Regions from separate parts of the Homo sapiens genome. Here all the other regions are linked to region 4. Evidence: fine-mapped expression QTL. A gene starts in region 4. Each other region holds a variant in brackets. All regions are shown on one strand. Distances are between the middles of the regions. Region 1 overlaps PARVB (parvin beta). Region 2 overlaps PARVB (parvin beta). Region 3 overlaps PARVG (parvin gamma). Region 4 holds the start of PARVG (parvin gamma).

Evidence for each region. PIP is the estimated chance that this variant, and not a neighbour inherited with it, causes the effect.
Region 1: its variant is fine-mapped to the expression of PARVG in whole blood (TOPMed, PIP above 0.99).
Region 2: its variant is fine-mapped to the expression of PARVG in CD4 T cells (CEDAR, PIP 0.95).
Region 3: its variant is fine-mapped to the expression of PARVG in whole blood (INTERVAL, PIP above 0.99).

What each region holds. Positions count from the first base shown.
Region 1 is chr22:44,094,691-44,102,791 of GRCh38, forward strand. PARVB (parvin beta) reads left to right here. Exons shown (of 13, transcript NM_013327.5): 3 at 5,363-5,433. Among named protein-coding and RNA genes, the nearest start is that of TRU-TCA2-1, 52 kb to the right of the region's middle. The variant G/A (reference allele first, on the strand shown) is at 3,849.
Region 2 is chr22:44,142,221-44,150,321 of GRCh38, forward strand. It overlaps PARVB (parvin beta), which reads left to right. Exons shown (of 13, transcript NM_013327.5): 9 at 5,641-5,702. Among named protein-coding and RNA genes, the nearest start is that of TRU-TCA2-1, 4.4 kb to the right of the region's middle. RefSeq lists enhancers at 3,221-3,850, 3,851-4,480, 5,739-6,368. The variant A/G (reference allele first, on the strand shown) is at 4,139.
Region 3 is chr22:44,199,072-44,207,172 of GRCh38, forward strand. It overlaps PARVG (parvin gamma), which reads left to right. Exons shown (of 14, transcript NM_022141.7): 13 at 6,686-6,758; 14 at 7,246-8,101. The coding sequence ends at 7,355. Among named protein-coding and RNA genes, the nearest start is that of PARVG, 22 kb to the left of the region's middle. RefSeq lists enhancers at 1,376-2,185, 2,997-3,806, 5,067-5,567, 5,568-6,068. The variant G/A (reference allele first, on the strand shown) is at 4,702.
Region 4 is chr22:44,177,102-44,185,202 of GRCh38, forward strand. PARVG (parvin gamma) reads left to right here and starts at 3,824. Exons shown (of 14, transcript NM_022141.7): 1 at 3,824-4,084; 2 at 4,641-4,816; 3 at 6,217-6,307. The coding sequence starts at 6,229. RefSeq lists silencers at 3,085-3,134, 4,305-4,434 and enhancers at 3,811-4,541, 4,542-5,271, 5,272-6,001, 5,315-5,404.

The DNA.
Region 1 (8,101 bases), 82 kb before region 4:
ATGTTGCTCAGACTGGTCTCCAACTCCTGGGCTCAAGCAGTTCTCCTGCCTCGGTTTCCCAAAGTGCAGGGACTACAGATATGAGCCACTGCGCCTGGCCCCAACACCCTTACTGTGGCTTTCTCTGAAGGAATGGGCAAGGCTGGGTGAACAGGCCTAGGCCTGGCTTGTTGGAATCGTTTCACTGGGCTTTGCGGTGCAGGAGCTGTCCTGAGTCTTCTCAGTAAGAAGACTCTTCTTCTTCCACACCACGTGGCGTGGCGTGGTATGGTGTGGCGTGGCGTGGCATGTCCCCAGGGCCAGGGGAGATTAGGGTGAGGATATTGGCTGGGAGTGTAGGAGCCCCGTGAGAGCCCAAGGAAAGAGGTGGCTGGGGACTCTGGGCTCTGCGGCTCAGGCTCTGAGTGGTTTTCATATGAAAGGTGTGCTCACAGAGGGTGGTTTACCATCTCTAGGAATTAGCTTGCCCTGGAGGTGCAATCTCTCCAGAGTCAGCAAGGCCCCGAGATGCCAAGCACCAGAAAATACAGAAAACAGGGCGGGCACGGTGGCTCACACCTGTAATCCCAGCACTTTGGAAGGCCAAAGTGGACGGATCACTTGAGTTCAGGAGTTTGAGATCAGCCTGGCCAACATGGCGAAACCGCGTCTCTCCTAAGAATACAAAAATTAGCCGAGTGTGGCTAGCCTGTAATTCCAGCTACTCTGGAGGCTGAGGCAGGAGAATCGCTTGAACCCGGGATTGGGATGTTGCAGTGAGCCGAGATCGCACCACTGCACTCCAACCTGGGTGACAGAGCGAGACATCTCAAAGTAAAAAAAAAAAAAAGAAAAAAAGAAAATGCAAAACACAATTAATATGCTTCTTCCCTTTGGGCCAGCCAGAGCTGCCCGCGGCCTGGGCTTGCAGGGTGGGCTCTGCCAAGTGGCCCAGGCCCCTGCGCTCACTGCCTGATGTAATGGGTAACAGCCAAGACACATTTTCCTTAAAGTGTGTTTTGGGATCTAGCTGATCTGGAAGGCATTTATGGAACATTCTGCGTATTTCCAAACCCTGGTTCGAAGGGAAGTCCCGGTTCATCCCTTTTTTGTGGTTTCCGTGACGAGGCCAGGCCAGCAAGAGCTTATGGAGAAGAAACGCCGATGCAAGTTCAGCCGCCAACCGACCCGAAGCCAGAGCTGGTGATGCTGCCTGAGGTCGCACCAGGGTCCACGGGGCTTTCTCTCCCTCCGCTTAGAAGAGAGTGGCCCCACCAGGCTCGGTGGCTCAGGCCTGTAATCTCGGCACTTTGGGAGGCTGTGGCAGGTGGATCACCTGACGTCAGGAGTTCGAAACCAGCCTGGCCAACATGGCAAAACCCTGTCTCTACTAAAAAATACAAAAATTGGCTGAGTGTGGTGGCAAACACCTGAAATCCCCGCTACCTGGGAGGCTAAGTCAGGAGAATCGCTTGAATCCAGGAGGCGGAGGTTGCAGTGAGCCGAGGTTGCACCACTGCGCTCCAGCCTGGGCAACAAGAATGAAACTCCATCTCATAAAATAATAAAATAAAATAATTAGCCAGGCATGGTGGCACACGCCTATAGTCCCAGCTACTCAGGAGGCTGAGGTGGGAGGATTGCCTGAGTCTGAAGAAGTTGAGGCTACAGTGAGCCAAGATCACACCACTGCACTCTAGCCTGGGTAACAGAGTGAGACCTTGTCTCAAAAAATAATAATAATTGAACTCACTCACTGAATATTTGCACAGCACCTGATTCTTTCTGAAGTCCTCTTTGTATATTTCATATCCTTTGGGCTCATAAATGTCATCATTGTAGCGAATATTGGGGGTCCACTGTGAATGCTTCTACTCCTCAGTCCCTTCAGTGACCCTGTGAGGTGGGTTGTATCATTATCCCCATTGTACAGATGGGGAAGCTGAGGCACAGATCTAAGATCACAGAGATCACTAGTAAGTGCCAAAGTCTTGAACCCCGGGCATTTTGCCCCCAGAGCTAGGCTCCTCCCCCTGCTCTAGACCCTCTCAGTGAAGATGGTGGCCCTCATCAGAGGTGAGTAGGACAGGTCCCTGTCCTTGGGCACGTTTTATTGCAGCTGGCTATGACGCACAAGGTGGGGAGGGCGGGGGCTCGGTTCCCACAAAACACTGGCACAGAGATACCACCCTGGCCTCTGGGCACTGCTTCTCCTCTGACTGAAGTGGAGAGAAACCTGAACCAGGCCCACCTAGCCTGTGTGGACCCAGACCTGCTGAAGATTCTGAGCCCATGTCTGACCCCCCGGCACCCCCTGGATGGAGCAGCGCTTGCTGTACCCACTGTGGTGTCCCGGGACTGTGGGCTCCTCGAGGGGTCCTGCCTCAGTCTTGGAGCCACCGAGAGGAGCATGGCACAGTTTAGCGACCACTAAAGTCACACAGCTCAGAGATGGCATGGCGGCTGGTGTCTGCTCTCAGCTTCCTTTTAGGAAAAACAAGGAGCCTCTCACAGCCCTTTTCTTCTCTCCCAGAGTCCCTGGAGTCCTGTTCCTCAATGCAGGATGTCAGAAAGTCCCAGGGCACTTGGCAGTGAGGGTTCCTGGCCACCCGAAGACCTACCAAATGGGAGTATGCGGGCCCAGGCCCCTCTGCTTTAAACATGCCTGCAGTGACTCCGGGGCCCACTGAGGTTTGGGAATTGCTCCCCTCTAGGCCGCGTGAGCAGCCCGTAGCAGACTGAGGGCCATGATGTGCAGTGGCCTGCGGGGGTTTCATGTCCAGGGTCCCCGGTCAAGGCTAGCAGGTCATGAATGCTGACAGGCAGCAAGGGCTGACTGTGAGCTCTGGAGCCCCCAGATACAGAGGTGTTTCTCATCTGGAGCAAGCGCCTGCTCTGAATCAGGCCCCTGCCCCGTGAGACGCAGCTGCTCCCTGGTCTGTGCAGAGCCTCTGATTCTGGCCTACTGTCACCATCACCAGGTGACCAGGAGATCCCGGCGGGATCTGCAGACATGGACACACTGCCACACATAGCTGCCTGCCTGGGGCCTGCTGTCCACCCTCTCAGGCCCACTGTTCCCCTCTAGGCGGGGTCAGGAATGAAAGCTACCCCACGGGGACAGGTAAAGACCGGAGATGCCTCTGAGAAAGTGTTTGGTAACAGTAAGCCTCGAAACGGCATCTCTGTCCTCCACCTTTCACAGTCTCTGGGTCAGACGCCCCATTCCTCTCAGTGGTCCCGCCGACTGAGGCAGGACCCCTCAAGAAGCACACAGTCCTGGGACATCCGAGCCACCATGGCATGCTGCCCAGTCTGGGGTCAGACGTGGGCTCAGAGCCTTCAGGAGGGAGCAGCGAGTTCCCTGTGGGGGCCACATGAGCTGGGCGGGCCCGAATCTTGCTTCTCCTCAGTTCAGCGAGAGCAAGGTGTGGGGACATGCTAGATAGGGCAATGCTGAGATTTTTAGTGTGGGTTGAAGGGGATGTTTCCAGAAACGGGCTCTCTGAAGGCTGGGATTGGGTAGTGACCTGCTCACTCTCCGTCCTGCACCCCCTCTCATACACGTGTGGACTCACGGCCTGGCCCTGCTCCTTGCCCGCCTGAGATGGGTGGTCCAGAGGGGGTCTCAGACATGGGTCACACAGGCACACAAAGTCCTCTTTGGGGCTGGAGAGCTTGGAAGATTTGGCATTCGGGCTCAAGGATCTCAGCTGGGGAGCTGAGGTCTGAAGGGTGAAGGAAACATGGGCCAGGGAGAGAGTGTCAGACAGCGGGAGCAGGTGCCAAGGCTCAGGGCAGGTGGCAGCAAGGCTTCAAGGAGTGAGGGAAGGCCGGATGGGCTGGAGCAGATTGCACCAGGAGGGCAG[G/A]AAATGAGGCGGGAGAGGGGCCTTGGAGGCCACATGGAGGACGCCGGCCTTGATCCCAGCAGGAGTGGGAGGCTGCGGAGGCCTTTGCAGAGATATCATCAGGACTCCCGAGAACTCCCTGCACATTACCTGGAGTGTCCTTTTCAGGCATCAGATCTGTATGACTTCAAAATTAGTTTCTCCATGTTGTCAGAGTTTACACTCTGCTGCCGGGAAGTTGCATCACATCCGTGTCAGCAGCAAAGTTTCACTCAAAGCCATTTTCTTTCTTTCTTTTGTATTTTATTTTATTTTATTATTTTATTTATTTTTAAAAATAGAGACAGGGATTTCACTATGTAGCCCAGGTTGGTCTGGAACTCCTGGGCTCAAGCAATCCTCCCGCCTCAGCCTCCCAAAGTGCTGGGATTGTAGGCAGGAGCCACTTACGCTCAGCTTCAAAGCTGTTTTCATTCTGACCGACATGGTCAGTGTCCCCAGCCCCATGGGAGCCTGTCTGGGCTCTGGGACCCTGGTCTCAACTGTGTCCTGGCCATCTCCACTTGTATGTCCTGGGGGTAACTGGCTTCTGCCTGGAGCCCCTCTTGTGCCTTTTTTCCTCTTTAAGAGAGAGGTGTGGTATAGAGCCTCCCGGTGAGTGGAGCCTGGGCCCCACCCGACCCATGCTCTGTGCAGGTCCCGGAGCTGGACAGTGTGGCAGCCTGAGACCCCCTTGCCCTTCCCTGTGTGTGTTCAGAGGTGCTCGGCGCCCGCTGGCTTCTGTGTGGTGCTGGGCATTTCTGCTGTGGAGCACGCCTAGCCTTGGTGGGTGCCCCCTCCGCAGTCCCGCCTCCCCACTGTCTCCACGGCACTGTCCTCCATGACGGGCTCAGCTGGCTGCCTGGTGTCTGTGGGATCCAGGCTGAAACGTGGAGGGAAAGCAAACAGGTAGAGAAATAGAAAGAGGGTGAGGCTGAACACGTTTTGCTGTTACACATCATCCCCCCCCACCTTTTTTTTTGCTATTTATTTCTCAATATTTTTTCTGCATGTTATTTTACATACAACATTGCATATTGATTCTTTTCCATGGAATGTACCAAACATTTTCCATTTCATTATAACCATCCAGACTCTTCAAATGTATTTATAAATAGTGGCCACAGGGAACTACCTGGTGCCTGAAGCTTTCCCACATACCAGATTCCGGCCAGCGGAGGCATCTCATGCCCTGTGAATGCTGCTCTCTCCTTATTTCTCCTGAAAAATGGAAATGGTTTGGACCAGCTGCTGGCGGAGTCTGGGAGGAGCGAGGCCGGGCAGAATGATGAGTTTGACTTCATCCCTTTCCAGAAGAGGGGAAGGCGGGAGGATGCCCCATCCACCTTCCAGAAGGCGGTTCCTTGCAGTCACCCTCCCCTAGTGCTGGGTTCTCTGCTTCTCCATTTGTCAGAGATGAGTTGGCCTCCCCCTGGTTCCCCGTGTCCCTGCCACCCCCACAATCGCTGACCGTGACTTCCTTTTGTCCCTGGCAGAGGAGAACGAGGAGCGCACGATGATTGACCCCACTTCCAAGGAAGACCCCAAGTTCAAGGAACTGGTCAAGGTAAGGAGCTCCGTCTTGGTTGGAATCTTCCTCTTAGGGCGAGGACTTGGCTTTGGGGTTCAGGGCTCTCATGGACAAAGGGAGCTAAACCCGGGGCTCCTGAAAGGGATGTTGGTGCTGCATGAGAAGGTGGGCAGACATGTTGGCAGAGGAGGACGGCAGAGAGGATCCAGCCCGAAGTGCCAAGCGCCTCCCATGTGCCCTGCTCGGCTGGGGCTTTAACGACCAGTCTTGTGAACTCTTTGCTGGACAGAGCTCGGCAGGAGGGGATTTTAGGATTAGGAATGAGTGCTGGCGTGAGCTAGTGTAGTACCTTACAGATGGAGTTGGAACTCCGTCTGGAGCCTGGTGGGGTCTAGATTCAGATTTAACCCTGAAAAGCAGGAGGGGTCACCCTGGCCACTCCTGGCCAGGAGCCATCTGATGCCGATGCCTGCGCTGAGTGGACAGTCAGTTTCCACCACGTCTGGAGGCGTGAATCCCAGCTGGGCGAGGAACCTGGCTGCCCCGCTCCCAGAAGTCAGGGAACAGTGAGGGAAGGGGCCCATGGTGCTGGCCTTCTTGGGCAGCGGCTGTCCTTCTCCAGCGTGGCTCCTGCTCACCGTGAGGCAGTGCTTGTGTGGGTCCAAGGACAGATTGCAGTTTTGGTTGCTCTGATCGAAACCACGGTAGGGCTTGAGAGAGAATCCCCTGAAGAGGAGAGGCTGTGGGCTCTGCCTGACCTTGGTGAACCCAGGGTGGGCTCTTGGGCACACGGCTGTGGCAGACACTTGGCTTCCATAGCCCACGGCGAGCTTGGGCACCCCGGGATTCTTGAAAATGCCGATGGTGACAGTGTCTGCCAGAAACAGACATTTTTCTATTAAAAGTGCTTTTTAAAAAGCTTCTCCACCTTCACCACCACAGTGGACCCAATGCTGGGCTGTACAACTGTGTTTTCATGAGGGCTCATTCAGAATAAGTAAGACGGCTTGCAAGTTATGTTCTTTTAAAATCTACATTGAGGCTGGGCGCGGTGGCTCACGCCTGTAATCCCAGCACTTTGGGAGGCCGAGGCGGGCGGATCACGAGGTCAGGAGATCGAGACCATCCTGGCTAACACGGTGAAACCCCGTCTCTACTAAAAATACAAAAAATTAGCCGGGCGAGGTGGCGGGCACCTGTAGTCCCAGCTACTCAAAAGGCTGAGGCAGGAGAATGGCATGAACCCCGGGGGGCGGAGCCTGCAGTGAGCCGAGATCGCGCCACTGCACTCCAACCTGGGCGACAGCGAGGCTCCGTCTCAAAAAAAAATAAAAAATAAAAAATAAAATATAAAATAAAATAAAATAAAATCTACATTGAGACCGGGCGCAGTGGCTCATGCCTGTAATCCCAGTACTTTGGGAGGCCAAGGCAGGTGGATCACCTGAGGTGAGGAGTTCGAGACCAGCCTGGTCAACATGGTGAAACCCTGTCTCTACTAAAAATACAAAAAATTTGCCGGGCATGGTGGTGGGTGCCTATAATCCTACCTACTCGGGAGGCTGAGGCAGAATTGCTTGAACCTGAGAGGCAGATGTTGCGTTGAGCCGAGATCTCGCCACTGCACTCCAGCCTGGGCACCAAGAGTAAAACTCCATCTCACAGAAAAAAAAAAAAAAGAAATTCCAAATGTCAGTTTTAGGGTCCACCCAAAGATGTTGATTATTAATAACTTAAATTATTTAATTTGTTTTATTTTTTCCCTCTGAATACCCACTTTGTTATTTCAAACAGAAGAACGTTGATGAGGAAAGTCACTGTCTTTTAGCCACGAAAATGTTGTTCTTGGGGGATATTTAAGCAAGGGATGCATGAGAATTATCAGGCTTCTACAAAGAAACAGACCCAATTGTGTCAATATCTAGAGAGAGGTTTATTATGATATTGGCTCACTTGACTACGGAGGCTGAGAAGTCCCCCGACCTGCCATCTGCAAGCTAGAAAGCTGGAGGGCCAGTGGTAGAGATGCCAGCCTGCGTCTGCAGCCCTGAGTACCGGGAACAGGGTGGGAGAAGATCCAGGTGCTGGCACTAGCAGTCCCCGGCAGAGAGAGGTGAATCCCAACTTCCTCCACCTTTTTGTTCTATGGGATCAGATGAGGCCCACCCGCTTTGGGGAGGGCTGTCTGCTTTACTCTATCCACCAATTCAAATGCTCATCTCCTCTGAACACCATTCCAGACACACCCAGAAACAATGTTTCATTGGCTATCTGGGCACCCCAGAGCCCAGGCAAGTTGACACAGAAGATGAACCATCCCATGCACCTTTCTAAAGATTTTTTTCTTTGATTTTTGAGCAATGCTTGAGAGTTCACAAACTCCATTCACAGGATTATCTCCTTGAAACAACACCCTGGGGAGCTGTGTCATTCTTGCTTCCATGTGGAGACTCAGAGAGAGGTGAAGGGGCTGGGCGCCATGGCTCACACCTGAAATCCCAGCGCCCTGGGAGGCCAAGGTTGGGGGGAATCACTTGAGCCCAGGAGTTCAAGACCAGCCTGGGCAACATGGTGAAACCCTGTCTCTACCAAAAAAAAAAAAATTAACTGGGTGTGGTGGGAGGCACCTGTAATCCTAGCTATGCAGGAGGCTGAGGTGGGAGGATTGCTTGAGCCCCGGAGGTCAAGGGTGCAATGAGCTAAG
Region 2 (8,101 bases), 35 kb before region 4:
CAAAAAAATTAGCCGGGCGTGGTGGCGGGCACCTGTAGTCCCAGCTACTCGGGAGGCTGATGCAGGAGAATCGCTTGAACCCAGGAGGTGGAGGTTGCAGTGAGCCGAGATTGCGCCACTGCACTCCAGCCTGAGTGACAGAGCAAGACTCTGTCTCAAAAAAAAAAAAAAAAAAAAAAAAAAAAAAAAAAAAAGATGACAGTGGGCCCCTCAAGCATTTTTGAGTCTTTTTGTTTTTTTTGTGGCGCTGTCACTTTTGTGTTTGGTTCGGGCCTTGTTGGAGGTTTAGGGAAAAGACAGTCTGTTCAGTTCAGTTGGGAGCACATGGGCCTCAGGCTGTGTATAGCACCCTGTGGCCCGAGGGCCCAGAAGCCTGGCCCCGGAGCCCCTGCCACCCCATGAATGAGCTTTAGGGTCTGATGGCTGGGGCAGTGGCTCCCTAGGTAAGAGCCAGGTGTCACATGTGAAAAGTGGACCCAGCTGCCACTCCAGGGGTGGGAGGACTGTGGAATCGCAAGACCATGTACAAGAGGCCGATGGAATTGTTCTCGTTACTTTGTAGGCTTTATGTGCTGTGCTTGAGAAAATGCAAACAGGCTATTAGTCGGTGACAGGCAATTAGTTCCACCCCCGGCCTTGCTGCTTCTGCTGACGCAGGTTCCGAAGTCTCCTGGTTACCCAGCCTGGCACCCTCAGGCACAGCAGGGTGTCTGGCCCGGCACCCGCCCCTGTGGGGGCAGCAGCACGCCTTGTCTTCGCTTCCCTGCCATGCCATTCCCCTCCTTCAGCCCCCGAGAGCACCCCAGGGTGCTCCCTCCTCCAGCAACCTTCACCTGAATGCTCTCCCTCTAGATTACCCCATGGCTCACTCTTTCAGCTCTGCCAGCTCTTGGTTCAAATGTCACTGATCAGGGAGGCCCTCTCTGACTCCACTGCCCCAAACTGGCCTCCACTGGCTCTCCTCCCCACCCCTGCCTTAGTTCTTTCTGTACTCATGTGACACACCAAGCAGCACTCAGCTCATGGGGATGGCCTGGCTCCTCTTCCCTGTGCCAGTGTTTACACAACGAAGCTTGCACGTGTCTGGCAGACACTGGTGCCAGCAAACTTTCAGGGGCACCCACAGCCCCTGCCTTTCTCCTTTCACACATGGCTCCTTGACCCAGAGGTGCTCTGTGGGCTGGAGCTGACCTTTCCTCGGGGTGCACCCCACCCCCTGCCAAAGCAGCCAGCCCTGGCCACAGTCTGCACGCAGCTGGGGGCAGATGTTTTAGGAGCTTCTGGAAGGCCGGGCAGACCCTCCTTGGCTAATGTGCTGGGCTTTGCCAGGAGTGGTCTTCTGGGCCTCAGTTTCCCCACGAGTACCCTGAGCCAGGGAGGGATGGGGACTCCATTCTGCCCACTCCCCATCATTCCGGGGAGGGAGGTGGCTCCACAGGTCCTCGCTGCCTCCTGACAGCATCACTGTCCTGGATGAGGTGGGTGAGGAGGCTTCTCTCCACGGAAACAAGTCTCAGGGGTTCCAGGGAGGTTGCAGCCTGGTCTCCATGGCAATGGGTGAGCTGGTGCGGCTTCTCCGCGGGCGGCCCTTCCCCCTCCTGGGCCTGCCCTGGGCTGGAGGCTCTTTCTGAGGCAGAGGGGAAAGAAGGGGGATGTGCCTTCCTCACTCTCTTCCCCCTCATTGTAACTCCTAGTAATTCCCCTTCACGTCTCTCCCATTTCTGCCAACAGGGCTTGTTCCAAAACCTCTGGCTCCATCCCATCACCCGTGGCTCCTGACTGTGCCCTCCATAACTCCCACGTTGCAGGCCACAGCCCCTGTTAACCCCTCTCACAGTCCACCCGGCTCTTGAACCTGCGCTGGGCTTTCTGGCATCTCTCTCTCCTTGTGCCTGCTGGTCCCTCGGTGGAGCGCCTTTCCTCCTCCTCTTGCCCCAGCAAGCCTGGCTTGAACCCCAGGACTGCTTTGTGAAGCCTTCCTCAGGTCCCCCCAGCCCTTGGTTCATGGGTCCCAGACTCAGGTGTCTCCAGGGACCAGGCTGATAATATAAAAGAGGAGAGTGTCTAGATTATGCAATGATAATGTCATCTGCCCCTTCACCCCAGGGCTGGGTGGCAGTGGGGAGTGGTGGGGTCTGGCGCAAGCTGGAGAGTCCACACCCCCATCCCCAGGGGCAGCTTATTGCTGCCAGGTGGGAGTGCAGGCTCACTGTTGCCACAGCCTCCAGTTCTTCAAGAGAAGCCAGAAGTTAAGAACTTTTGGACAAACTTTCCAATTTAAGAACTGTTCGCTCTCGCCGGGTACCGTGGCTCACACCTGTAGTCCCAGCACTTTGGGAGGCTGAGGCGGGTGGATTACTTGAGGTCAGGAGTTCAAGACCAGCCTTACCAACATGGCGAAACCCCGTCTCTACTAAAAATACAAAAATTAGCCAGGTGTGGTGGTGCATGCCTGTAGTCCCAGCTATTCAGGAGGTTGAGGCAGAATTGCTTGAACCCGGGAGGCAGATGTTGCAGTGAGCTGAGATCATGCCACTGCACTCCAGCCTGGGTGACAGAGTGAGACTCTGTCTCAAAAAGCCTAAAGACCAAAACAAAACAAAAGAAAACAAAACAAATGAAAACTGTTGACTCAAATCAAAACATTACAGCGACCAAGCTGAGCATTCCTGCAGATTGAGCTTGGGCAGCCCTGGCATATGGTCAGGTCGGTTGGCCCCCCGTCTGGCTTCGTCTTTTCTGACACTAACAGGGTTGCACTATCATAGTTTACTCCCTCTCCAGGCCCTCCCCCAAGTCTGTGCCTCTTCCAAGAGAGGAGTCCCTCCTTGTTTATCTCTGTGATGTCCCCAGAGCCTGCGGAGGCTCTGGGGGACAGGACGAGCGGGAGCTGTAAGGACTGAGGACCGACAATGCTCCTGCCAGGCTCCATGCTCCTGCCTCTACTCACTGCCCCACTTAGTTCCACACCAAGAGCGAGGCAGGGGCTGTGAGAATGCTGCCTTTATGGAGGAAGAAAGGGGGTCGGAGAGGGAAGGATTTGCCCAGTCATGGGGTGTGAAGTGGGGCAGCTAGAACAAAATAGGATCTATTTTCGTTCCCAAGGCCAAGCACATCACAGGGGTGCAGTATGCTCTCTCTGTCTCTCTCTCTCCCCTAGGTCAGGGTGGTCCCTGGGGAGGCCCCTGGGTTACCCCAAGACAGGTGGGAGGAGCTTCCTACCCGACCCTCTTCCTGTCAACCTGGGCTCTGCGGCTCCCAGGGCTGCTCCTTGTATTGGGGCCCCAGCCTGGCTGGTAACAGAGGGTCCCTCCACTGGGCTCAGTCTTCTGAGCATGCTCTGCCCCCAGGAACCTGGAGGATGGAAGTTGGGGGCCCTGGGTCCCTTCCAAATGCCCTTGGGTCCTGTGCCTGGTCCCCAGTGCCCATTTTCAGAGCCCCTGGCCCCTCCCTGCCTTGTGGACTGTGTGACGTGATGCCAGTCCCCTGGGTCCAGGGGCATGGCAGCCGGCGGAGAGGCCTCTGCGGCCCCGATGTCTCCTTGAGTGGCTTGACTCTGCCAGCCCAGCGGTGGCCCAGCTAAATATACCCTGGCTGACGTCAAGCACTCTTCTGCTCCTGGGGTTTTTCTTAAGCTGCATTTATAGTTTGCGTATTGCTTTGTAAAGATGTAAAAATTTCACTTTTTTTTTTTGTTTTGCCCCTTAGCAGACTGTCTTATTGAGTGTAGTCTTAGATGATTATGAAAATCATTTACAGCTGCCGCATTAGGAAGCTGGCGTGTGTGCAGAGGCAGGGCATTTTGGTCAATGTTGGTCTTTAGGTGAAGAAAACTTCCCTCCCTTCCCCCAGTCACGCACATGCTCACACACGCACACATGCGCTCACACAGGCACACACACGCTCACACGTGCTCACACATGCACACACGTGCTCACACGTGTACACACGCTCACACCGCACACACGCACACCCGTGCTCACACGCACACATGCTCACACATGGACACACGCTCACACACGCGCTCACACGTACACACGCTCACAGCACACACACATGTTCACACACAACCTCACACGCACACACGTGCTCACACACGCACACATGTGCTCACGTGCACACAGGTGCTCACACACAC[A/G]CATGCACACACGTGCTCGCACACGCACACATGCTCACACACGCAAACACGTGCCCACAATGCACACACATGCTCACACGCGCACACACACGTACACATACACTTTCCTTCTCTCCTTTCCTCTTTGTTTCTCACCACCTCCACAAGGCCACGGAAGGGGCTACTTGGGCTGGGCTGGGCAGGGGGGTGTGAGCTGCCTCCTGGGGCCCAGCCTGGGAGGAAGGGTCAGCATGCTTCCTCTGGGAGGAGGCTTGGCCAACTTCTCTCCGTAGGTCTCTGGCTTACCTGGGCCTAATCCCTTCTTTCTTTTTCTGGGCTCTCTTTGTCTCTCTCCTAGGCCAGGGCGGTCCCTGAGGAGGCTCCCCTAGGCCACCCACTAGACGGGTGGGAGGAGCTTCCTACCCCACTCTCTCCCTGTCAAGCTGGGCTCCGCAGCTCCCAGGGCTGCTCCTTGGGTTGGGGCCCCAGCCTGGCTGGTAAAAGAGGGTCTCTCTGCTGGGCTTGGTCCTCTGAACATGCTCTGCCTCCAGGAACCTGGAGGATGGAAGTTGGGGGGCCCTGGGCCCCTTCCAAATGCCCTCCTCCCTGTCTTTTCTGCCCTGGCAGTGATGCCCCACAGCTCTGTGTCTACCTGGAGACCTCAGCCCTCTGCTTGGGGTCCAAGTCTCTGTTCCATATGCCCCTATGGAACTCCCCCCTCCATGGCAGCAGGAGCAAAGGCTCTGAGGCAAGTGTGCACCAGTGTCAGCAGGAGCAGCTGGGAGGCCGGTTGGTGGAGTGAAGTCAGGGAGGGTGCATGTAGGAGGATAACGCTGAGTCTGAGTGTCCCATGGCACGTGGGAGAGAGGATGGATTTTATCTGAGTGTCCCATGGCTCGCAGGAGAGAAGATAGATTTTATTCTAAGCATGATAAGAAGCAGTTGGAGGGTTTTAGTTGTGGTGGGAGTGGAGGGGGGAAACAAATGATCCTGTTTGCACTTGGAAGGGCTCACTCTGCCTGCTGGGGAGAAGGGCTCAGGGGCCAGGAGTGGAGTAGGAGGCTGCAGCTGCTCCCAGGCGAGGGGCAGTGAGGCGTGAGCAGGACATGGCCACCGTCGCGGGGGAAGTGGTTGGATTCACAGGTGACATTTGCCAGTAGACAAGGAGTGTGGGAACAGGGAGAATTCAGGACGCCTCAAGTCCTAGGACGTGGCAGGTGCAGATGCCAGATGCCATCTATGTGTTTCATATGAGAAGGTAAAAAGCAGGTGGAAGGGACCCTCTGCAGCCTCTAGTCCACGCTGTTCTGGTTGTTCCCAAGCGCTCTTGCTCGCCTTGGTTTGGCCGGGACTGATCATCAGGGTCAGCCCTTTCATTCTGGTAGGAATTGGAAGGATTCTAGGCAGGTGTGGGAGTTGAGGCTGAACCTCCTGAGGGATCAGAAGCTGGCAGGGCCCTGGATTAGGGCAGCACCACGGGTTTCCATAAACGCTCCTTCGTGTCTCTCTTTGCATGTCCTCAGAGCGGGATGCCTTCGACACGCTGTTCGACCACGCCCCGGATAAGCTCAGCGTGGTGAAGAAGGTGAGCTATTGGTGGGATGTTGGATGTGCTCTCCCCTGGCTCGCGGCTTTTTGACAGCACAAACGCCCCGCTGGGAAGAAGGTGGGAAAATGTTTGGAATCTCAGAAATGTTTGCCACATGGATTGAAATGTAATTACAGTCAAAAACCTAACCACAGTGCATAAAATCAGCGCCTTTTAACTCAACCTCGCTGCTCCCTGGGTGTCTTCCTGCCCGCCCGCTCCGCTTCTGTTAAGTGAATTACCCAGCCCCCATTTCTTTCTGACTCGAGACCTTTTTTCAATGTGGAAATGTTTTTAAGCATGTCAGCCTGCTGCTCTCGCTGGCCTCATTTACCATCTACAGCCTGCCCAGTAAACACGCAGGCCTGTGCGGCTGAGCTGTGCCATACATGGATTTGGCCCGTTTCCCTCCAGACAGAGAATGGGCCCTCACTAGCCCAGGCAGCCTGCTGGTCAATCTGTGGATGGAAAAATCTCCGAGGCTCTGGAGTTGGGGGCTGGGTGTGATCAGCTTCTGGGGGATCTGCCAGGGAGGCTTGTTCCCGTCAAAAGGAACTGGAGCCCACTGGCTGCTCATTAACTTATCCGAGTGCCTGCAGGCATCCCATTCAGGAGGCTGCTGCATCCCTCCTTCCCATAACATCGGAGGAGCGCTCATTTCAACCCATGGTGCAGGCAAGAGAGTTCTCCTTTGTCTAGGACAGCTTACCCAAACAGCTTTCTTAGTGCAAGACTTGTCAGAACCTTTAATAGGCTGACCTATACTGTACTTCTCCAAGAGGGAGCTTGGTAGGAAGCATTTTTCAAACTTGTTTGTTTATAGTGGGATTTATTTATCTATCAATTTTGGGGTAAGACGCATTGTATTTTAGTGGAACCCACTTTTGGAAAATGTTGGCCTGGGTTTGGACGATGAGATCATTCATTTTTGGAAGCATTTTGCAAAAGGCTGTTGGAACCGTGCTAATGGTCCTTCTGGGACAAAGCCTTCCTAGCACTCTTGGGTGGTGAGGGATATACTTGGAGCATCAGAGTCCCCCACCTCCACCTCGTCACATGTGGCCCCCAGGGACCCTGACAGAACCGGTTCAGGGAATGAATCAAATCCAGCTTCCCCACTTATCAGCTGTGTGACTTCTGGCGAAGGGCGAGATTATACCCCCCAGCCTCAGTTTCCCCATCTGTCAAGTGGGGACAGAGATGTTACCCACCTCTCAGGGCACTGTGAGGATAAACTGGGATTCTCTCTGTGCATGGGCTTAGCCGGCAGCGTATAGTCACTGGTAGCATTGAGAATGGTGTGGCCTGAGATTGCTTTCATCTCTCGGTAGATACCATGTTAATTCATTCTGCGAAAGACACATTTTCGGCACTGGAGCCACCAGCAAGGAAGAAGACAGAATCCTTTGATTTGCCTGGTAGCTTCCCACTCCAGCCTGTCCCTTCCTCACCTCCACATTGCAAGTTTAGGTGTCTGTAGCTCTCTGTGCCCCAGAATGAAGTCAGGGGCCCCTGCCCACCTCTGCAGGTTTCTCCCTGGGTCGTCCCCTCCTACTCCTTCCCATCCCACCCACATCCAGCCACAGCCTGAAGACCCCAAAGGGTTTGCAGATGTGTCTGGGTGCCCACTCGGCTCACTCTCACCTTGCACTGGCCCACCCTCAGGCCCAGCTCCAATGCTCCCTCTCCATGGTCTTAACGGGGGTCCGCACACCCATTAATGGCTCATGAAATCTCCCTTGCATTGCGTGTTTCCCTGTAGTGCCCTATCTCTTGACTTCTCCGTCCCACCACTACACGCATATGGAGAATTACATCACAGGCCCTTTGGCGGGGGCCAGGGGTGGAGCTCTCTGTGTTTGTGTCCTTAGCACCAAGCAGCATGCCTGGCACATAGTAGCTGCTCAGTAAATTTGAGCAGAATGGGTAAGAAATCATATCATGGGCAGGCTGGGCGCGGTGGCTCACGCCTGTAATCCTAGCACTTTGGAAGGCCGAGGTGGGTGGATCACAAGGTCAGGAGATCGAGACCATCCTGGCTAACATGGCAAAAACCCGTCTCTACTAAAAAATACAAAAAAATTAGGTGGGCATGGTGGTGGGCACCCTTAGTCCCAGCTACTCGGGAGGCTGAGGCAGGAGAATGGCGTGAACCCGGGAGGTGGAGCTTGCAGTGAGCCGAGATTGCGCCACTGCACTCCAGCCTGGGCAACAGAGCGAGACTCCATCTCAAAACAAAACGAAACAAAACAAAACAAAACAAAACAAAACAAAGAAATCATGTCATGGGCAGTGGTGGATGATATTGAGTTTCTATCAAAGTTGGCTTTGGTCACTGAGGAATTACAGGTGACAGGTTTTAAGCTTGTGCCGGAGAGAAGCCAGTGCCCCTTGGT
Region 3 (8,101 bases), 22 kb after region 4:
ACCCACCATCTATGCACCCATCCATTTAACTGCCTACCTGTCCATCCACCTAACTGCCTACCTGTCCATCCACCTACCTGCCTGTCCATGCACCTATCTTCCTGTCTGTTTATTCATCTACCCAGTCCATCCATCCATCCATCCACCCACCTACCTGCCTGCCTGTCTACCCACCCATAGGAAGTTTATCTATATGTCTGTCTGTCCATCCATTCATTCATCCATCCACTTGCCTACCGGTCCATTCACCTGCTTGTCCTGTCATGCATCCATCTGTTTGTCCTTCAATCCATCTTCCTGTTCTGTTTATTGATCCACCCAATTTACCCATACACTTGCCTGCCCATCCACCCACCTGCTCATCCACCCATCCCCTACCCACACGCCTGTTCCCCCATTCCCTGAGGGCCTGTTTAGTGCCAGGCCCTGAACTGCATGGGATGTTAAGTTGATCCAACATAGCTCTTGCTTTCAGGGAGCTCTCAGTCTGTGCCCACTGTTCTCCTAGTGACGTGTGGTCTTGCAGGGCCACAGTGAAACGTGTTGGTTCAGATGCCTGGGTCAGAGGAGGGGCCTGGAAGAATGAGGGCTTAGAATAATCTCAAGGAGTCAGGAAGGGCATTGCATCAGAGGGGAGCCGGGAAGTTGATCAGGGATTGGTTTGCAGAGTTATCAAGGAAGGGCTTGCAGAGGGGAGGGAATAGCATCAGCAAAGGCTCAGAATGTGGCAAGAACAGGAATGGGTCAGGGAGGTGTAGGTGCTTCACTCTGGCTAGAGGGGCTGGAAGGGTGGGGCCTGACCTGGGGGGATCAGCAGTTCCCACGTGGACCCTAGAGGCTGGTGGACTGGCTGGGAGCTGGCTGCCTGCTTCCAGGCATGAGGGCTGTGGCTTGACCTGGGGAAGAGGGATGAAGAGAGTGATGGAGGTGGGGTGAGAGGGCAGGTGAGCCTGCAAAGATGCAGCTCCCACCGCCTCTTCCCCAGGTACAGCCTTCAGTGCCCGCTGGCTAGTCCTGCCTCCGCCCCCGCCAGGCCCCTGTGGTGTGTGCCACCACTTCCTCCAGCTCCCTGGGCTCTCCCATCTCTGGGCTTTGCCACAAGCTGTTCCCTTCCCAGGAGCACCCTTCCTACCAGGTAGGCCTGGCCCATGAGAAGGGATTTTACTACTTTCCAAATAAGGAAAGAGAGGTCCACGGGCAGCCAAGGCTTACCCCGGGTCACTGCCAGGCAAGAGGCCTGAGTCTTGTGCTCTTCGCCACCAGCTCCCTGCCTGCCTGGACCTCAGGTTTTCTGTCTCTGAAAATGGGCTGACAATCCCTGCCCCCTACTCAGGCCACACAGGTAGTAAGAAAGAGTTTGGAGAACCATCGAGGAGAAAGCATTGAGGGACATGTGGTCCCTAGTATCCCCAGGCTTGCCTCTCACAGGAGGTGACATTGGAGGCGTGCATCCCAAAGGACAGGCTGGAGTGTTGGTGGCTGGTGGCGTGCCCAGGATCCCGGGCAGCCAGCTTATCTCCATCCATGCCAGGGTTCCCGTGGCCTGGGGCAGGAGGACCTCTTTATCTCTCTGCAGCAGTAGCTTTTTCTAAAGAGGTGAAGCAGGAGGCAGGGCCACATGCCCCGTCCCAGGGCCAGCCTCTGGGGCTGTTTCTGGGAGAGACAAAGGCTTCCATCCCTTTCACATGCTCAGGGCGTCCTTGGCCCTGGATCAGGCCTCTTGGCCTATCTGGGGCCCAGTAGCAGGTGAGGTCCCCCCTGGACCCCTACCAGACTCCCCCTCCACCTAGGCCCTTCTTCTAGGCCGCTCCCCTTAACCTTCCTGGACACCCACCCTTGTGCCTCTCCCCTGCTTCAAGTGGAGCACCCAACTGCCAAGCCCCATCTGCCTCCCCGACCACGTCCCCTCCTCCCTTCCTGCCGACTCCCAGCCACAGCCACAGCCACAGCCACATGACCTCTGGCCCCCTTCCAGCTCTCCAGGGCCTGGTCCTCCCCCATTCCCTCACATCCACGCAGGCTGTGCTCTCAGCCCAGCCTACCCTGGCTTTGCTTCCCACCTGCTTCCCTGGGCGGGCGGCCAGCTCTGCCCACCTTCTCAGCTCCTCTGCAGTCCCTCGGCGCTCTGTGGGGCCCTGTACCACAGTCCACACTCCCTTGGGGTTAGCTCCCTGCACTTTGCCTCTCCTGGCCCTCTCCCCACTCACCCTCCCTCCTTGCCCCTGTGAGAGCGGGGCAGGGCTGCATCTCCATTTTACAGAGGGGAGCCCAGGGCCCGAGAGGCTTACCCAGTACCACCCAGCTGCTCAATGGCAGCCTCACACCAGCACAGCCTGCCGCCCGCAGCCTGCCATGTCCCTCGCCCCCACGGGGATGCATCTTGAGTGGGTGTGGCCTCCACCTTCCCTGGAGGCCAGGTGCTCTGGACTTGGTTCCCAAGAGCTGGGATGTTGGGTCAGAGCAACGAGGCCGGGGCAGTCAGTGTCTACGGTCCTGGTGGTTGTGGCAGGCACGGTGCCTGCTGCTTCCTAGGTTCTTCCATTCGGAGGAGCTGCATCAGCCAGCCATTGCCACAAACGTGCTGCTTAACAAACCACCCGAAAACCTAGGGGCTGAAAACCATGCTCATTTCTTCCCACAGACCGGCAGGTCGGCTGAGTTTAGCTGCTAGAGGCTCAGCTAGGCTTTGTCACTCCTCCGAGGACTGGATAGGGATCAGGCTGTCGTGGCTGGGTGGCTCGGCTCTGTGCCACAGCCTGCCATGTTCCTTCTGGGACCAGCAGCTGGCCCGGGCACGCTTTCCTCCTGGCAATGGCAGACACATGAGAGACCAGGCAGAAGGCATGAGGCCCTGGCTCAGAATGGGCAGGCTGCCACTTCCATCGAAGCAGGCCCTGTGGCCTTGACAGTGACATGGGACAGCCCTGCAAAGTGTGTGGGTGCAGAATTGGGCCGATGGTGGGATCTCCCACGGGCAGTGTGGACGAATGTGCTAGCAAATCCTCATGTTGGGTCTTGGAGTTAGGAACTCTTCCCATCCCCACTTCCACAGAGGAAACAGTTGAGAGAGGCACAGAAGTCTGGCCCAGAGCACACAGTGAGTTAGGGTCCTCCCTGTTTCCCTCCTGTGGAGCCAATGTGAGTCTCTGGGAGATGGAGGGGTGGCAGGGCTCAGTGGGGTTGAAGCCAAGGCTGAGACTGGGGTCAGAGCCTGCCTCGGGAAGGCAAGGCACTGAAATGTGAGCGGTGAGGAGAGAAGGCGGAGGAAGGGGGCAGGCAGGACCACCTGCGGGCTGAGGGCCTGGGGCTCGGAACCCAGCTCAGAGCCACTCTGGGGTGCCCCTGGGCTGCAGGGCCTCTGCTCAATCTGTTGCACCATCCAAGCCCCAGTTACAAGACGGGAACAAACGTGCAGACTTCCATGTTGCTGTGTGCAGCCGCTTTGCTGAATCCACTGATTTTAGAACTTACTTCTGAATATGAGTCAGATTAGATGTGGGGGAAAAGCAGCAGCCTCTTAGCTCAGACTCCAAGAATGAATTTTTACAGCATATTGTGGGCAATCTCTGCTGCAGGAATGTGTAATCAAAATGCTGAAGAGGTCGTCAGCTGAGGAGGGCGGGAACACCAGCCCTTGCTGAAGGTGGGCCTCTGCGGAATTGTTATCTTGGCAGAGTAGCCTCTTGAAATTGGATTTCTCATTATCAGACCCTCTTTGCTGATGGTGTTTATGTGAGATAGTTATTCATTGTGGGCACGGAAGTTAAGGATGGAGGGAGAGAGGATCATTCGCTCCCAGAAATAAAATCCCCGGAGCCAGGAATCCTTGGCGTCCTTCCACGTTAAATTACTTTCCCCAGGAGGATTTGCACGTATCCTCCCGGGTTGTAACCTTCTCTCAGCTCCGTGGAAGGTGGTAGTTTTATCTTCATCTCAAGCCACACGCGGAAGAAAAATCTCTGGACAGAGCATCATGAGATAGCTCTGGAGCCAGGGTCAGCTCTTACTGGGGGATGATCTTTTGTTCAGATTGAGTGTCATTGAGGAAGAGTGTGACAAACAGAAGCAGATGTCATAATTTTCAGTGTCGATAGCAATTCCCAAAGCATAAGCTCTATGAGGGCAGGAGGTCTGGTCTGTTTTGAGCACTGGTTGTATGGCTAGCACATAGTAGATGACAAGTATTTTTTTAAATAAGTGAATGAACGAAGTGTTTCCAAAACATTGGTCCCAGGAGGTGTTCTGTGACAAATGGGTTCTATGAATAAATAACTTGGGGAAACATGTCTAGTCTTGAAGGTTCATGCGGCCCACCAACACATTCAAGGCTCTAATAAGTCCTGCAGTGAAGGACTTCCATAGTATTTTATTTAATCCAACAATTTCTAAAAACGTTTGGCCACAGATATCCCCTTTCCTGTCCATCTTAGATCACAGTTTGGGAGATGCTGGCTCGCTGAATGTATCAAAGGCGGAGCTTTGAGGCAGGAGAGCACAGTGCGGAGTCTGGAACCTCAGGTTCCTCAGGGTCTTGTTCTCACTCCGACATTTACTCTCCATGTAACTGCAAATAATATTCGTGATGAGAATGCGAACAATAGCAACAATTGCAACCCTAGTTTCCCAGAATATTCCAGTCTAGGAGGAAGAACTGGGGACACAGTGATGGGAACTTCCGGTGATGCTCTGGTCTGTCCACTC[G/A]GAGCTTCCCATCCATCTTGGTCTGGACAGTCTCAGAGTTTCACCCCGCATTGGCCCCTGCAGCATGCTGCAACATTGGTGCCGTGTGATAGCCTTTGTTTCGCTCTTGTCACCCAGGATGGAGTGCAGTGGTGCAATCTTGGCTCACTGCAACCTCCGCCTCCTGGGTTCAAGCAATTCTCCTGCCTCAGCCTCCCAAGTAGCTGGGATTACAGGCACGTGCCACCACACCCAGCTAATTTTTGTATTTTTAGTAGAGACAGGGTTTCACCATGTTGGCCAGGCTGGTCTCGAACTCCTGACCTCAGGTGATCTGCCCACTTTGGCCTCTCAAAGTGCTGGGATTACAGGAATGAGCCACCGTGCCTAGCCTGTTTCTTCTTGTTGGCTGACTACAGAGGAGCGGCCCTGCTGCTGCTGCTGGGCACCCTGCCCATACACTCCTTTCCATCTGGGACCCGCCCTCCATCTTCATGTCCCCACGTGGAGAAGGACTCTGCTCACCCACTTCCAGCTCCTATGCCTTCATCATCCTCACCTTCAAATCTTGCTTTGTGGCTTCAATTCTGTGTCCGTCATCACATTGGACGCACATGGCAGCCTTGGAGAGGAAGGCAGACAGGTGTATCATCCCCGTGACACAGATGAGGCACCTGAGGCCCAGCCAGGATGTGTGACTTGTCCGAGGTCAGACACTTAGTGGCAGGGATGGGGGTGGCAGTACACAGACATCCAAGCTAGATCCCAAGAGTCCTCTTGCTCGGGCCATCCAGCAGGTGGCTGGAGGTGGCCTGGGCCAGGCTGGCGTTTCTGGATGAGTCTTGCCTGGCCTTGCTCATCCACCGCTCGGCCAACCTGGCCTCTTGGCCCCTGGCGGGTTGCCATGGGAACTGCCCTGTCCTGGTGGGGCTGGTGTGGCCAGGCAGATAGGGAGGGAACGGGACCAGCACAGCTGACCCCCGGGCTGGGATGTCCACCCCGTCTAGTGGATCTACGGGTGGCTAAGACATTGAAGGGAGGACCTGTTTGAGGTCACAGTGAACCAGGAGTTCATCCCTCTTCACCCACACCAGGCTGCTGCCCTAAGGCAAAGGGCTGGGACCTACTCTGCTTGTAGACGAGGCCCAAGGGAGAAGCTAGAATGGAAAGGGAGGGGACCTACTGTGGGAGGGCCGGCAGGCTCCTGGGCTCTCACCATATCCTGTAGCAAGGCACAGGGGAACTGTGGTGAGCCCACTTTGCAGGGGAGCAAGGGGAGGCCCTGGGCAGGGACTAAGCTGAGCTCTGAATCACTGGGGGACTTGACTGATGCCCGGGCGCTCTCCACCCTAAAGGGAGCCATCTCTGAGACTGCACCCCAGGCAAGGGGTGGCGGAAAGGACAGCCACCTGGGTGGGGACCGCTCCAGTCTCTAGCCTGCTTTGCATGAGCATTGGAGCGGACAGACCTGGTTTGAGCGCTTTCTGTCTCGTGAGCTCCAGTGAGCCCCTTGGCTCCTCTGAGCCTTGATTTCCTCACTGTGCTTTGCCCTGGGAAACAGCTGTTCTCAAAGGTGCTCTGCCACCCCAGGCCCTTGCTCCTTTCCCTGGGTAGTTCTCCCTGCCTGGCGGGACTCACCACCAGGCTTCACCTCCACCAGGAAGCCTTCCCTGATCCCTATTGGGTATCCTCCTTGGCGATTGCCTTTTTCACGGGCAGTGGCCCCTGGACGCAAGCGTGTGCCCAGTGTGGTATAGCACCTGCTCAGAGTGGGGCCTGTGAGTGGCTGAGGAATGAGACATGGATTGCTTGTGTGACAGAGTGAGCTGTAGGGAGATGCTGGATGACCACGGATTGTGGTCGTGGTCAGGGATGCCCACCTTGGATGGGAGTTTAGGCTCATGATGGACATCACAGACAACAGGAAGGGCTTGGCACTTGGGACCCAAGGCCTGGCCTGGGGCTGCTGCTTGTGCCCACATCTGATAGGGCCTTGTCATCATAGCTGCACAACGTCACCCTGGCGCTGGAGCTGCTGAAGGACGAGGGCCTGCTCAGCTGCCCTGTCAGCCCTGAAGGTGAGTGCAAGGCAGATGCCCACACGGTGGCCAGCCCTGGGTGGCAGCCTTGTGCGAGAGCCACAGAACAGGGTGCAGGGCATTGGGGGATGAGCACGCATTGGCAGAGTCCTCTTGCCTGGCAGGGGTGGAGAATGGGCGCTTGCCAAGGTTTCTTGGGAGGGGGCACTGCAGCCCCAGGGGAAGAGGTTCTGGGGAGGGGGAGACCAAGGTCTCTGGGGACAGGTTGTCCAGAGAAGCCAGACCTTGAGGAGTTGCTGTGTTGGGGGCACCACAGGAGCATTCAGAGGAGGACTGGCCAGGAGGAGGAGGCAGTCACGCAGCAGGCGCGGGACCCAGGCCTGGAGTGACCAGCTGTCCTGGCTTCCAGGGATTCTCCTGGGATTAGCACTGAAATCCTGAATGCCAGGAAACCTTGACCACATCGGGACAGTCGGTCACTGCCACCCAGGCCTGACTGGCTGCCCTGCCCTCCTTTGGCCCGCAGATATCGTGAACAAGGATGCCAAGAGCACACTGAGGGTGCTCTATGGTCTGTTCTGCAAGCACACGCAGAAGGCACACAGGGACAGGACGCCCCATGGAGCCCCGAATTGACCCTCACTGCCTCCAAAGCCCAGAGCCTGCCTGTCAGCCCAGCTGGAGGGCCCGAGGCTGCAGGGTGTCCTCCCACAGTCCCGCTGTTTCCTGTGCATTCGTGACCCGCTTCCCTCCCACCCTGTCTCCTGTCTCCATCGTTGGATTATCTTTGAACCCCCTTGTGTGGATCATTTTGAGCCGCCTGGCCTTGCTCAGTTTATTTTAATAAAAGTATTTCTGGGAGGGATTCTGGGAACTTGACAGGGTCCTGAGGAGGGCCCTTAAACCTGCAGCCTCCCTCCCATGGGGTGAGTGTGTGTCACATCAGTCTCTCATCTCTGGGCCCAGGCTAGTGACCGCCCAGAGAGGTGGCATCACTCAGGGCTGGGGACTCTCAGGGACAGGGCCCACAGCCCCAGACCCCACCTTTTCCAGCCCAGCTCCCCACACCCACCTGCTTCTCACTCGGGAGGATGGGCCCCAGAGTCACCCTCCAGGGCAGGAGCCCGAATGGCTCCATAGCCATGCCCCCACCCACCGGGAGAAGTGGATTCAGTGACTGTCAAAGCAACCCGGGCTGTGTCCTGCAGCTGCCCTCGTGAGTTTTGCCCAAAAGTCACAAAGAAGCAATCTTCGTGGTTGATTAGTGGGTTCAGGTCATCTCCAGTCTGTCCTCGGGAGCTGTGGGTTCCCACTCGCTCCAGTGAGACTTGGCATTTTCTGCACATAAAGAAGAGTCGTGTGGGAGAATTGCACATAGTCAG
Region 4 (8,101 bases):
TGGAGACTCATGAATGTTAACATTTTTACTTTATCCTCTTCACTCTCTTTCTGTCCCTGCCTATCTGCCTCTCTCGATATAATAATAATGATATATATTTCTTTAGACGCACACATTTACCTGGTGATATATATATTTTCTGAATCTTTGAGGGTAAGTTGCATGCATTATATCCTCTTCACCTCTAAATACATCAGTGTAGCTTCCTAAAAGTGAAGACATTCTCTTCCATAATCTCAGTATGTGTCATAATCAGGAAATAACATTGATACAATGGCATTGTCTAATCTACAAACCTTAATTGTGTTTTTTTCCAATTGTCTCAATGATGTCCTTTATGCCAAAATAAGAGGCAGGACAAGGCATTGAATGAGTTGTCCCATCTCTCCAGCCTCCTGTAGTCTGGAGTGGCCCTTCAGTCTTTCCTTATGTTTCATAGCCTTGATTCTTTGGAGAATCCAAGCCAGTTATGTTCCAGAATGTCTTGCAGCTTGGATTGATCTAGTATTTTCCTCGTTATTAGATCCAGGTTATGCGTTTTCGGTAGAAGTGATGTGTTCCTCTCAGCGCATCATTACCAGGAGACATGTCATGTTGATTGTTTTACTTTCTTATGATGTTAATTTTGATTACTTAGCATGTGAGCACACGTCTGTGGTCCCAGTTACCCAGGAGGATCACTTAAGCCCAGGAGTTCAAAGCCGCAGTGAGCCGTGATCACACCACTGCACTCCAGTCTGACAGAGTGCACTGTTTCTATTTTTAAAAAATATATATTACTTAGTTAATATAGTGTTTATCAAATTTGTACACTAAAAAATGTAACTCTTCTTTGTAATCGATCAATATTTATGAGGAAAGAATTTTCACTTTTGGAGTTACCTTTCCATCAGGAATAACTAGAAGCCTCCACAAAACACAGGAAACAGTTACTTCAGACATTGGACATGCCTTTGCTCCCCCTTCACCTTCCACCATGACTGTGAGGCCTTCCCAGCCATGGTGGAACTGTGAGTCCATTAAACTGTCTTTCTTTATAAATTACCCAGTCTTGGGTATGTCTGTTTTAGCAGCATGGAAATGGACTAATACACATAGGAACTCTTTGTACTTTCCTGCAGCTTTTCTGTGAGTTTGAAACTATATAAAAGTAAAATGTTAAGAGGCGAGTCAGATCTGTGATCCCCAAGAAAAGGGTGGCAAGTGAGGTGAGCCCTACCCTGGTCTTGGCTTTCTGCCTGGACATAATTCCTGGACTGTGCTGTAGTGAGGGGGACCCAGACAGAGCCAGGTCTCACTGATTTAAGGAGACAAAGATCAGAGCTTGCAGAGATTACGCTTATTAAAAACAGACATCAAAAGAATATTTCTGCCAGAAAAATTCCAACACTTCTTAAAGAAATGCAACAAAATTCAGCACGCGACGACATAAAAATTTAATGTCTAGCATTCAATAAAACATTATTATAAAGAAGCAGGAAACTGTGACCCACAATCGGGAGAAAAATCAGTCCACAGAAGCAGACCAGGAAATGACAGAAGTGATAGATTCTACAGGACAACTGACCTGGATGTTTAAAAAATGTTAGTGTCGTGAAAGATTGTTCTAGATTACAGGGCTCTAAAGAGACATGAAAACCAAATGCAATCACATGTGCTGTGTGATGCCTGAATGGATCTTGGATTAAAAAAAATACAGCTGTAATAGACATTTTTTGAAGCCTTGGTGAAGTTTGAATGTGGATGAGATATTAGAAAACCTTCTATCAATGCTAATTTTCTTAGGTATCATAATGGTACTGTGTTATGCAGGAGAATGTTTTTAGGAGAAACATTCTGAAGTATTTAGAGATATCCCTAAAGTGATGTGATCCCTGCAATTTATTTATTTTTTATTAATTTTTAAAAATTTTAGTTGTGGTTAAAAATACACGTAACATAAAATGTACTGTCTTAACTATTTTTAAGTATACAGTTCAGTAGTGTTTGGCATATTTGCACAGGTATATTTCACACCGTGTCTCTGAAAAAAAAAAAGGCTGGAATAATTCCCTTCTATCCATGCCTTTCTCTTAATTGGGGTTTGGGGGTGCTTGGACTTATCTCCATGTTACTCTTCCAATTCTTAGAGTCCCTCTCTTCCCCTAAACAATGCTCTACACACAAGAGGCTTTGTGAGTTGTGGATTTAGTCTGTTGTAACTCCACACCATACAGGATTAGATTTCGCATCTGATTCTTACATCAGCCCTGCAGCCCCAAGAGATGAGAGATAGCTTTGAGGGCTATCAGAGAACTCCCTGTATTCTGCACATACCTTGAGCTGAGAATGTAAAGCCCTGGGACTGTCCTTTTCTTGCTTTAAACTCTTTGGTGTGATGATAACAAGCTCACCCCACAGTCCTTAGATAACCTGTGCTCGTATTGCGTATGGAAGCCACAACTCTGCCAAAGCCACAATTTAATAGGTACTTCGTTCTGAGTGATGACAGGTAATTATTTTGCCATCACAGGCTACGATCTATTAGAACTCCATTCTCTAACAGTTACTAGGTCCCCACTGCCTTTAAATCAACCAGAACAAGTAACCAATCCCAGTTCCCATCCTGGAGGTCGTGTTGCCTGCAATTGTTTCTGGTAACAAATCCGAAGTTAATTGGGATTCAGTTGCCGATGATTAGAGTCTCTTCAGTTGTTTGGAGGAGAAAGGAATCTAACATAGGAAGCTGTGTGATTCTCAAGCTGTTGGAAGGCTGGAGGCAGCGCCTCCAGCAAGGACTCTTGGAAGAATACTGCAGAGCTGGCTCCTGAAGGAAGCTGCCGAGTCAGGCTGGCCCTAGAAGCATGCTTTCTGGGTTGAATGCTTTAGGTTCACCTCTGCAGATCCACTCCCCACCATTTTCTCTCCTCACATCTATGGGCCGCAGCAGGGGACTTCTTTTCTCTGGCTTCTGGCTGGATGTGGGCAGGGGAGGCCCTGGCAGGAGGGAGGAGAGTGAGGCTTGGTCATTGATTCCTCCAGCTGTGCCCTTCTGCTGGTTCACCATGAGCTGGCTGTGTCCCTCTACCAAAGGCCACAGCTCCTATCCCGAGGCCCCTCTTAGAGCTTCAGTGATTCTGTTCCTGGGCTCTGCCACCCACTCCCTCCTTCACCCTCTAGGTTTTGAAGAAGTAACAGCTCCCCATGTTGCTAGCCTGGGGTGTAGCACTGTCTCTTCTGGGTTCCTTTAACCCTGCCCCAGCTGTCCCTTTATTAAACAGTCTTCAGTTAGCACATGGGAATATACCGTCTCTTTGCTGCTGGGACTGTGACTGCTGCTACATCTATGTGGCTGTGATCCAGAGTCAGAAGCCACCACCAGAACCACTGTGTCCAGAGCTGGGCTGAGCCTGCTACACACGCCCCAGCAAAATAGGTCCTGCACGGTGGCTTCTCTCCCCACCTGTTACAAGCCCCAGTCTAGCACGGGCACTTCAGAATGGCAGGGACTGACTCATGTGCCTCAGTGTCTTCCTCTGTAATATGGGGGTGATGATTGTACCTACCTCACAAGGAAGTTTCCAGTAAAATGAAAGCCCTTAAAATTATGTTTGTTTCATCACCAATGACTCCATAAATATTAGCAACAATACCAGTACTAAGTTTTGTCATTTTTTATTAACTTCTTGTAAACGACCCTACTTTCCTGCTCTCACACACTCCTTACACCTGCATCCCACCTGATTTAGCCACTTTCTGCCTAACCTGTCAGAAAGGGTAGATAGCTTCCCAGTCACCTGTTGCTAGGGAAACTCACCATTTCAGCCCGGATGGTGAAGATTCCAGCTTGAGAGACCAGCTCGGGTCTGAAGTGTTTCTCTATCTACTGTGCTGAGATCTCTCCTTCTCGAACCCTGCTATGCCTTTGCATACGCTGTTTTCTCCACCTGCCACGTTCTCACCCCTTCTTCTTCCACTGCAAACTCCTATGCAGCCGTCAAGGCCCCATTCTCCTCTGGAAAGCCTTCCCGATCCCCTTGGCAACAACCACCACCAATATTTATTCACTGAGCCCACTTTGTGCCAAGCATTGTTCTAGACACGGGTATGTAACCGCGATTGAGAGAGACAGACCACGCACAGCCTGGATTTTATTTTAAGAGCTATTGGGTGCCGTTGGTGGGTTTGAGTGAGTGGGGTCAGGAAGTGACTCACTCCTCCGAGGGCTTGTGGGAGCCTCAGCTCAGGGGCGGGCAGGGGGCGTGGGGAAGTCTGCAGCCGAGAGTCCAGGTAGGAGTCTCCTGCGTGGTCCCGGGAGAGGAAGGGGCCTGGCCCGGGGCGGGGTGTGGAGGTGGGAGGACGGCGGTGCGGGATGGAGGGTGGAGGCCAGGCTGACAGGGTGCTGGTGGTGGGTTGCGGGGGTCGACCCCAGGCTCTGGCCTATGTAGCTGCCATTTTGGAGGTGAACAGCCTGCGGGGAAACTGGCATGGTTTGGGGAAGGCGGGGAGAGGGGGAGAAATGAAAGCATTGAGTTTAAGTGGCCTGCAGAACCCCGGGGGCCCAGGCGGCACGGCGGGCGCTGGGGCTCCGGGCAGAGCTTTCTGGAGGTTTGTGGCAGCTTCACTTTCACGGCATCCACCCCCCTCGGGCCCTGCCGCAGAGAGGAGGAAGCTCCTGCCGGCTGAGCGGGCCTGGAGGAAGTGAGCAGCGGGGCTCCTGCCTCCCGGCCTGGTCCCCGAAGACCCCAGAAGAACCCGGAACTTGCTTCCATTCGGAATCCAGGGACCACCCTTTGCACTCAGTAGGCCTTTGTTTTCCTGCGTGGAAAGCGGTTGGGTGAGTTCTGGCATCGGGGCCACCATACTTGAGTGTTGGGGGTCACGGAGGGAGGGGCCCAGACACCACCTGGGAAGGATCCCAGAGTGCAGTCCCAGCCCAGGCCACCCGGGGAAGGGAGTCGGTAAAGTGGGACCTTGAGTCCCCACGGCCCCTCCGGCTGCCCCTGCTCAGAGGCTGCTCGGCGTCCTCCCTCCCTGTTCTACTGAGGAGTTGCCGCCTCTGAACTTCAGCCAACCCCTCCGTCTCCAGGTGAAGAAACTGAGGCCCTGGGGCCAGGAAGGGGCTTGCCCAGGCTGCTGATCCCTTTGGGCAGCATCGAGTCCAGGCCCTCCTTGTAACCATGCATCAGGACCAGAGAGGGCAGGGGGTTTGCCCAACGTCACACAGCCTGAGTGAGGAGGAGCTGGCCTGGGACCCAGGCTTCCTGACGCCCAGGCCAGGCTCTTTCGTTTTCTCTGGCCATGGCCCTCAGCTTGGATATTAAGGGGCTGGGAGTCAGTTGTGTCCCCACCACCTCCATGCTACAGGGCAGGATGGAGTCTGGCATCCCCCGCCCCAGGCTGGCTGCTGGTGTGACATGGGTGGCTCCAGTCGAGTGAATGCCTCCGTCTCCCACAGCTCAGGGGGCTCCCTGCTCTGGCCACCAACTTCTGCCATGTGACTCCCCTACCTCAATGTCTGATTGAGTTTGAAAACACTGAGAAGACCCAGGGGCTGAAAAGGGAGGAAGAGGGAGGCCAGAAGGCGCCAGCCGAGCCAGCGAAGCCTTCACAGGAGAGGAAGTGGGCCAGGGGAACAGGAAGGAGGGCTGGGCTGGCCTCTGGGTCTGCCCCTGTCCCGGGCATGTGGTGAGCCCAGCCTTCTGCCTGTAATGAGGAGGAGGAAGATGAACAGTGCCTCTGTCAACCCTGGCCCTTCCGGTTTATGGGATGGGAGATGTCACCATTCCACGTATCCACCTCAGCCAGCCCCACACAGGCCGACCGGGGAGGTTTCCCTTGAGCTCAACCTGACAAGCTCTGAGGAGTGAGCTGTACCTACTTTGTCCTGTCTGGGATAGGGTGGGGGGTCCCTGGGTAGGGGGCTGGGGGCTGCAGGAGCACGGTGGGCGGCCGCTCTGCACCTGCCTGAGGAAGGACCACTTCCTCCGCCAAGCCTTTGCTTGGCTGTGCCCGCCCTCAGCTTCTGTGCCTTTTTCTAACCCGTCACCCCGCAAGGGTTGGCTCAAGGGCTCTTTCTCACAGGGCCCGTACCCCCTGCCTAGGCTGGCATGCTGACGTGTCCCCAGAACCTGGCTTCTACCCTCCTTCTGTGCCTCCAGGTCTAGAGAAAATGAGGGGCTCAGTGAGTTTGGGGCTTCTCAGACCGTGACGCCCTCTCCTGCCTCCTCTGTGCAGGCTTGGGAGGCGATGGAGCCGGAGTTCTTGTACGACCTGCTGCAGCTCCCCAAGGGGGTGGAGCCCCCAGCGGAGGAGGAGCTCTCAAAAGGTGTGTGCCCACGCAGGTCTGAGGGTGGAGGGTGAAGGTCTGTGTGGCAAGAGTGAGCCTGGCCATGCCTGGGACTTGCAGCACCTTCCCAGCTGTCAGCTGAGCGCCCAATTCTGCTCACCCCTGCCTCCACCTTCTGCTTTATGCTTGACCTAACTCCTCCTCCTGGGACCTTCTACAGAGCTAGAACCTCTTCTCTCCAGATGAGAGACGGTGTGGATTACGATGGTGAATACTGATTGCTCTCATCCTGTGAGCCTTCTGAGTGCCCCTACTGCACCAGCACCTCTTACCAATAGCAACTCATTTATTCTCAAGGGCGGGCATCAGTGCCTGCTTTATACAGATGAGGAAACTGAGGCACAAGGGGTGACGTGCCACAGTAACAGGAAACTCTTAGCAAGTGGTGGACCTGGGTTCTGAGCCCAAGGAGGGTGGTCCCAGAACTGAGGTTCCACACGGACCACGCAGCGATGCCCACCATGGAGTGATACTTTGCAGGGTGTGGGGCTCCTGACGTGCTCCCCTCACACGTGTGGGTCCCTTTCAAAAGTGGGGTGAGCATAGGATGGAGCAATTCAACGACTATAGGTCGCCCTTTCAGTAAAGCTCTGTGTCATGAGCCCTTTGGGGGGTTGGCGGCCACAGTTCCTGCAACCTCCCTTCTAGGAGATGGCTCAAAAGAAGGACATGGGCAGGTACCCAGAGCTGTCACCCTCTCTGTGTTCTCTGAAAGAAACAAATGAACAACAGCTTGCAAGGAAGCAGCGAGATGTCCCAGTGGGGAAGGGCTTTAGGTGAACTCATTGGAATTTATGTAACCACAAAAACATAAATGTGCTGACAAAGAAAATGTGTGAAATAATTTAAGGGAAGGGAGCAGAATGCGGCTTTCTCCAGCTCCTGTGAATACCGCCTTTTAATGTTTATTTATTTATTTTTTTCTTGAGACAAAAATCTCACTGTGTCACCCAGGCTGGAGTGCAGTGCCAGGATCTCGGCTCACTGCAGCCTCTGCCTCCCAGGTTTAAGAGATTCTCCTGCCTCAGCCTCCCAAGTAGCTGGGCTTATAGGCACCTGCCACCACACCTGGCTAATTTTTGTATTTTTAGTAGTGACGGGGTTTCACCATGTTGGCCAGCTCGGCCTCAAACTCCTGACCTCAAGTGATCCACCCGCCTCGGCCTCCCAAAAGTGCTGGGATTACAGGCGTGAGCCACTGCACCCAGCCCTGAATGCCGCCTTTTAAGTAGGTGTTATGGAGCGAGAACTCCAGTGCCAACAGGGTCCCTGGCACGGCAGATGAGACCCCAGAAGGGACAAGCTTGGTCCAGAGTCACCTGGCTGTCTTTGTCACCATCTGGTATTCTGTGTTTAAAACATTGAAGATTAGAAAGTGTCCTGAGGAAAGTTGCTGAGTTAGAATAGTAGGACTTAGTTACTACCAAACAAAACAAACAAAAAAACCCATTAATTTTTTGTTTTACAACTGATTTAAATTACTAAAAGTTCTGGCAAGCAGAGCTGGGACATTGGATGATTCAAGCGGCAAGAAGTCTGCTCCAGGAAGGAGCAGCACCATATCCATTCACTCATTCCTTCATTCCTTCCTTTCTTCATTCATTCATTCGCCTGCTCACCCGCCCAAGTGTTTGCTGAGAGCCTGCCCTGTGCTGGGCACAACAGCCCATGACGCTGTTGCCTTCCCTTTCATCAGAAGACATGGGTCTGGGTAGTACTTGAAGGTTTTCAGAATACCTAGGAAAAGCCTTTATTGGGGTCACATGAGAGATG